Linked DNA regions of Homo sapiens. The protein of the gene in region 2 purifies or fractionates together with the protein of the main gene of each other region. This does not show direct contact. Each region holds a gene or a part of one and is shown on either strand. Other genes may lie near its edges. The genes, in order: KCMF1 and KHDRBS3.

The links.
Region 1: the proteins of KHDRBS3 (region 2) and KCMF1 purify together in Homo sapiens (co-immunoprecipitation; one large-scale study listed by IntAct). This does not show direct contact.

The regions. Positions count from the first base shown.
Region 1 is NC_000002.12:85,023,049-85,026,868, forward strand, and holds part of KCMF1 (E3 ubiquitin-protein ligase KCMF1), read left to right. Parts: intron 1-3,820. UniProt on the Homo sapiens protein: E3 ubiquitin-protein ligase which accepts ubiquitin from an E2 ubiquitin-conjugating enzyme and then transfers it to targeted substrates, promoting their degradation by the proteasome.
Region 2 is NC_000008.11:135,460,143-135,463,962, reverse strand, and holds part of KHDRBS3 (KH domain-containing, RNA-binding, signal transduction-associated protein 3), read right to left. Parts: intron 331-3,820; exon of another isoform or gene 75-330; coding exon of another isoform or gene 1-74. UniProt on the Homo sapiens protein: RNA-binding protein that plays a role in the regulation of alternative splicing and influences mRNA splice site selection and exon inclusion. Binds preferentially to the 5'-[AU]UAAA-3' motif in vitro.

The DNA.
Region 1 (3,820 bases), on a different chromosome or scaffold from region 2:
GGCTAATTTTTTGTATTTTTAGTAGAGACGGGGTTTCACTGTGTTAGCCAGGATGGTCTCGATCTCCTGACCTCATGAGCCGCCCGCCTCGGCCTCCCAAAGTGCTGGGATTACAGGCGTGAGCCACCGCGCCCGGCCAATACTGTATGTATTCTTTGAAATTTCCTTTCACTCATCTGAGGCAGATGTTCTTACCGTTGCTGTGATTCATTCTTTTTCCAATTCATTCTGTGCATATTGAACTGTTGAGCCTTTGAATCTGAATAGCCTTTTTTTTTTTTTTTTTGAGACGGAGTCTCGCACTTTCTCGCCCAGGCTGGAGTGCAGTGGCGCGATCTCAGCTCACTGCAAGCTCCGCCTCCTGGGTTCACGCCATTCTCCTGCCTCAGCTTCCTGAGTAGCTGGGACTACAGGCGCCCGCCACCACGCCTGGCTAATTTTTTTTTGTATTTTTAGTAGAGACGGGGTTTCACCGTGTTAGCCAGGATGGTGTCGATCTACTGACCTTGTGATCCGCCCGCCTCGGTCTCCCAAAGTGCTGGGATTACAGGCGTGAGCCACCGCGCCCAGCCCCTGAGTAGCCTTTTTAAAATTCAGTTACAAAAACTGCCGTCAACATTCTTCCACATTCTCTAGGTGCACACAGACAAAAGATTCCCTCCCCGGGAATTTATTTAAGAGTGAAATTACGGTATCATAGGAGGTATATGTGTTTAACTTGACTAAAAATATGAACAAATTTTTCAAAGTGGTTGTGCTGATTTACACTCCTACCAGCAGGGTATAAGCACTTCTGCTGCCCTTTATCTTCACTAACACTTGATATCATGAAACTTGTAGTTTCTTACCGGTTTGGTAAATGTAAAATGCTAGCTCACGGATGTTAATCATGCACTTCTTTGATGACTAATGAGATTGAGCATCTTTTCATATGTTTACTGGCCATTTATGTTTGTTGTTCTTTGAGTGCCCTTTGACAGGTTTCTCCATTTTTCTACTAAGCATTCATCATTTACTTACTGATATGTAAGAGTTCATAATGCATTCTGAATACCAAACTTTTGTCTGTCATGTATGTTGTACATATCGCCAGTTTCTGAACCTTATATTTTCAATCAATGTAGGCTGTGAAAAGACGAAGAAAAAGGCCGAGCGTGGTGGCTCACGCCTGTTGTAATTCCAGCACTTTGGGAGGCCCAGGCGGGCAGATCACCCGGAGTTCGAGACCAGCCTGGCCAACGTGGTGAAACCCCGTCTCTACTAAAAATACAAAAATTAGCTGGGCATGGTGCCAGGCGCCTATGATCCCAACTCCTTGGGAGGCTGAGGCAGGAGAATTGCTTGAACCCAGGAGGCGGAGGTTGCAGTGAGCCAAGATCTCACCATTGCACTCCAGCCCCGGCGACAGAGTGAGACTCTATCTCAAAAGAATAAAACAAAAACAAAAGATGAAGAAAAAGTCTTAACGTAGTTGGACTTATCTCTTACTTTTTGATTTGGAGAGTGAGAGAGAGAGAGAGAGAGAGAGAGAGAGAGTGTGTGTGTGTGTGTGTGTGTGCGCGTGTGTGTGTGAGAAAGAGAAAGATTTAAGAAATTGTTTTCTACTTTAGACTCATAAAAATATTCTATATTGTCTTCTAGAGATATTTTTCATTGTTCTTTTGAATCCGTCTTTAAACCATGTGGAATTGATTTTTTGTGTGTATAGGATATGGGGAGAGATCCAATTCTGTTTTCCCCACATGCAGATAATCACCTGTTCAGCACCATTTATTGTCCATTCCCTTTTTTTCTCAGTGCTCTTTAGTGACCTTGCTGTTGTAAAACAGATTTCAACATCTGTTTCTGGTCTTTCCGTTCTATTCCATGGGCCAGTTTGTCTCTACCCTGGTGCCATTCCATCTTACTGTAGTTATTATAGGTTTATTATTTGTTATGGTGTTACTTATTATTTATTAGTTTAGCTCTTGATATATAAAACAAGTCCCTCTATCTCATTTTTCTTGGGAGCATCTTGACTCTCCTTGGCCCTTTTTGTAACTTGCATCAACATTTGAGTCAGCTTACCATGCCCCACAAAAAAATTCTTTTTAAATTTTGGTTATTAATTGTATTGAATCCACAAATCTGTTGACATTTTATTATGAACCTTCCAGTCCATGAAGTTGGTATTTATATTTTTTAAAGTCCTTTAGTGTCTTTGAATACATTTTTACTAATTTGCTTCATAAAGGGCTGCCTATCTTTGGTTAGATTTATTCATAGGCACTTTTTTAAAATGCTGTTGCAAATGGCTTATTTTTTTATTGCAGTAAAATATACATAGCATAAAATTTATTTTAACCCCTTTTAGGTGTACAGTTCAGTAGCATTAAGTATATTCACATTCTTGGAACCATCACCACTGTCCATCTCCAGAATTCTTCCATTATCCCAAACTTGAAAACTCTCTACCCACTAAACCGTAACTCCCCGTTCTCCCTTTCCTCAAGCTTCTGGCAACCACTGTTCTACTTTCCTTCTCTTTGAATTTGGCACATCTCGATGGAATCACAAATGACATTTTTTTGGTTTTTTGAGATAGGAGTCCCGCTCTGTCACCCAGGCTGGAGTGCAGTGGCGCAACCTCAGCTTACTGCAACCTCTGCCTCCTGGGTTCAAGTGATTCTCTTCCCTCAGCCACCCGAGTAGCTGAGATTACAGGCACACACCACCATGCCTCACTAATTTTTTTGTAATAAATGACATATTTTTAATAATATGTTTTTCTGTCTGTTTTGCAGTGAAGAAATACAATCAGTACTTTATTTAGGAGGTCTCTATCTAACAGCTTTGCTTACTGCTTCTAATAACTTAGCTGTATTTGGGTTTTCAGCATAAACAAGCAGATCACATGTGAATAAAACTATGAAACCCACCTACAGAATTTTAAATTTTAACTTTTTTAAAAATATTTTTTAAAGACAGAGTCTCACTCTGTCGCCTAGGCTGGAGTGCAGTGGCATGATCTCGGCTCACTGCAACCTCCGTCTCCTGAGTTCAAGCCATTCTTCTGCTTCAGCCTCCCAAGTAGCTGAGATTACAGGCGCCCACCACCACGCCCGGCTAATTTTTGTATGTTTAGTAGAGATGGGGTTTCACCAGGTTGGTCAGGGTGGTCTTGAACTCCTGACCTCAGGTGATCCGCCCACCTCAGTCTCCCAAAGTGCTGAGATTACAGGCGTGAGCCACTGCGCCTGGCATATTTTAACTTTTTTTTTTTTAAACAAATACAAATGAGATCTCTCTATGTTGCCTTGGCTGGTCTTGAACTCCTGGCCTCAAGCAGCCCTCTTGTCTTAGCCTCCCAAAGTGTTGGAATTACAGGTGTGAGCTATGGCACCCAGCCCTGTTCAAGCTTCTTTCTTTCCTTTATTATTATTATTATTATTATTATTATTATTATTATTTTTATTTTTTCCAGACAGGGTCTTGTTCTGTTCCCAAGCTGGAGTGCAGTAGTTTGATCATGGTCACTGCAGCTTCGAGCTCCTGGGCTCAAGCATTCCTCCCACCTCAACCTTCCAAGTAGCTAAGGCTACAGGCACAGGCCACAATGCCCAGCTAATTTTTAAATTTTTTTGTAGACAGGATCTCTCTATGTTGCCCAGGCTGGTCTTGAACTCCTGGCCTCAAGCCATCCCCCTGCCTCGCCTTGCCAAAGTGCTTGGGATTATAGGTGTTAGCCACCACACCCAGTTATTTCTTTTAACAGGTCAAGAATTATTTGATGCCCCAATTCTGATATGAACTCATGACTGATTCTGCTGCTCCTGCTAGT
Region 2 (3,820 bases):
CGGGGATGGGAGAGAATGCACAGAAAGCAGCTGGCACGGAAGAGCCTCAAATTGGTGGCTTTTATAATCATCATCCCCAACGCCAAGGAACACTCTCCTTCTATTGTTTTGGTAGAAGATATAAGTCATTCTATCTTCACTCAGCGGGACTGGTGACAACAGGCAAATGGGGCTTTTGATATCAAAGTTGCTGTTGGCACTCAATTTGCGGTTTCAATCGCTCCTCTGGCTTTCGGAGTTTCCCTTTGGCATCTGAAACTGCGGATAACTCTCTCAGGTAAGAAACCTTATTTGGCATGTGACTAGGGCTTCCAAAATTCTGTTTTTAATCTGTCATGAGAAATATCATTAGGAGTTTAGAGAAGGAGAGCAAATTGATGAGAGTGCAGTGATTTCATAAATTCCTTAAGAAAGAATAAAAGTAAATAAACATCTGATTCAAAGCAGATCTGACAACATCTTCTCATTATCTCCTAGAGAAGGATCCCTACTGTGCAACCACATTTAAAGAGCACTGGGATGCTTTTCTGCTTGTTCAACCCTGCATTTCACTCAGAACCTTCTTTCATTGATATGGGCAGAACTGTTGACTTCATCCCCACCTCCAATTCAGGTCCTCTAAAGCTGTAAGAAGCAAAGCTCTTTACTGACTGCTAAATTCCAAATATACTTTCTGATTCTGCTACCCTTAATGATAATTAACACGTAACACTGAAATGAAGACAGGAGTTCCCAAGGGCCCTGTGCTCAGACGTATGCTAGGTGCTGAAGATACAGAGGAAAGACCAGGCCCTGTCTTCCGAGGAACTCACTCTTTACCAAGAAAGACAAAGATCCAAACAAAGCAGTGTGATGAGGATCACACCGTAAGAGCACCAGGTGTTATGTGACACCAGAAAACAGGCAATCCAACCCATTTTGAAAAAGGTCAGAGGACTTATCTTAGGGCAGAAATGTGAAGAATGAAGTATGAAAATGGATGCTATATAATTTATCTTTCAATTCAGCACAGGCTAGAGGAAAAACAAACTGCACATAAAAAAGCCAGGGTTTTGATTCTCCTTCTATCATTCACTAATTATACCATCACAGGTTGGCCAGTAACTTAGCCCTTTAGACTCTCAGTGTTACTGAGAGTCAGTAGGACATGGTAAAAAGAACAATGGACCTGTAAAAGAACAAAGCTTGACCCTTCACTCTGACATTTTATTATAAGCATGTCACCATGGGCAAGTCACTTTAGCTGTCAGAATCTTGGTTTCTACAACTGAAAAACTAGGCTAATAACCTCTCCATCTCTGAGCTGTTACCAGTATCGAGATTACAAACATGACCCAGTACCAACAAGTGCCTCAAAAATGTCCACAAGCTGATTTATTAACAGTAAATCTAAGCCATCCAATCATTAAATATTTCAGCATAGTTGAAGGACTAAGATGTTCCTTAGGAAAGAGGGCATCTACAAACCGAAAATTCATTCTCAAACGCACACAGAGGAGAGCAGGAGCTTCTCACCAGTGCAGACTGTTTTTCCTCCCTACCCCTGGGACCCAACACAGAGAACCAGCATGGCAGGTTCTCTATAAGCCTGTTACTAATGTCCAATACCAAAACCCTGTAACTCACAATCACTGGGTCACTTTTAATCATAATACACTGTATAAAACTCAGAAATGGCATATCTAACACTGTGAGTGATCGCATTTTCTTAAAAAAAAAAAAAAACTGATAACACAAAGAAAAACAATAAAAAACTAAAAACTAAATAATCACATCCTCCTTTGGATGAAACAGAAAATCACAAACTATAGCATGAAGGCACCATACCTAAATACAGTTCTGCAGTTCTCATTCTTACTCTCTACTTTACAAGTCTGTGACATTCAAGCAAATCCGAAATGTTTTCCAAAAGGGGTCCCCAAAAATCAAGTTTTAAGCCCCTGGGTTTTGTGGATTACAAAGAGATGTACATAAAATAATAATCCTTCCTTAATATATTTTTATCCTCCATATTTATTCTAAGTAATGCTAAGAATTGTAATATTTGAGAAACTGATATAAAAACCATTTTGATATACAAACAAAAAACTTTTATCAACCTAGACACAAATCTGGACCACCTTAATCTTGAATCCTCAGCTCCACTTTCTCTTGTAATCAACGACAACTAAATGTAACTTGGCAGTGAGCCAGCCACCAATCCATACATTATATCAGATAATTAAAAATACAGTGTTATGTAATCTTATTTAATGGTTACTTGGCTTGTATTGAAAACCATCCAAACCAATATCAGAGACTTGGATTAAATTATAATGCATAAGACATTTCTAAAGATGTTTTTTAGTAAGAGTCAGCACATCCCCTACTAGCAAATATAAAACATGCAACACCACTTTCATCTGCAATTAACCTCTCCTTGGCAAGAATTGCAATGTCAATTCACCCTACAGGCACCAAGGCGGGGTCCGGAGTGGGATCCCAAAGCCTATTTTCTTTGACTGACTTTTAACATCAAATAAACATTAACCACTAATTTTGTTAGAGAAACAAATTCAGAGGCCAGGCACGGTGGCTCACACCTGTAATCCCAGCACTTTGGGAGGCTGAGGCAGGCAGATCACGAGGTCAGGAGTTCGAGACCAGCCTGGCCAACACAGTGAAACCCCGTCTCTACTAAAAATACAAAAATTAACCAGGCATGGTGGCGCACACCTGCAGTCCCAGCTACTCGGGAGGCTGAGGCGGGAGAATCGCGCAAACCCAGAAGGCAGAGGTTACGGTGAGCCTAGATTGTGTCACTGCACTCTAGCCTGGGCAACAGAGCCTGGGCAACTTCGTCTCAAAAAAATAAATAAATAAATATTCGGGAAACAAATTCATTTAGGAGGTGGAGGAGGAGAACCAGTTATTCTGGTAAAATGAAAATAAAATCAGCAATCAGTGCCCACGATGAAACACAAGTCTGGAAAAATATAAAAGCCAATGTATACCAGACAGGAGTATATCTCTTATTGTCATCCTAGCTCAAGAAAGAAAAAGAGTAATTCAGTTAGGAAGTTGATCAATCTTTACGAACACTGAATTTTTAAAGAACGACTACACCTCATCTATAAACTGCTTCATTATCATAATGCATTGATTATTAAACTAATACACTAGTCACAGGAGGGCTTTAATTCAAAACTGCCTCTTGGCCTCAGCATCAAAATCCTGGAAGATAAATCTACCGTGAATGTTTGCTTCTTCAAAGAAGGCAAGTGCAGACAGAAACTTTCTGTAAAAATCAGGATAAACTTCCTAAAGGATATATACTATTTCCTACACATTTAAGTCAGTTGGAAACAATCATACTAATTATATTGATTTCTGCAGGGTCTGAAGTTAGCAAGTGAGAAGTATTTCATTCCAACATTTTAGGAAGCCAAAATAAGAAAGAACAACCTCTTCAGAGACAGAAGACCTGAGATTTCAAATTAAATCTCAGTTGCCCAAAAGCTTAGATAGCTGGGATCCTCAGCTGCCTTCCTGAAAAGAGAAGACATGAACATCTGCCTTACCGGAATGCAAGTGTGAGGACAAAACTAGTGCCTTGGAAACTTTAAAATACTATGCAAATGTAAGGCCTTGTTAGAGTTTAGAGATACCATAAAACATATCTATTACATGGCACGCTAAGGTTTGCCATGCTGGCCCATTCTACAATTTAGTGCTGAAATACCAACTCCAATGTGAATAACTGCTGAAAACACAGTTGCATTAGAGGCAAACACAAATATAACTAAATAAGAAAAAATAGCCCATAACAAGATGGTTGGAT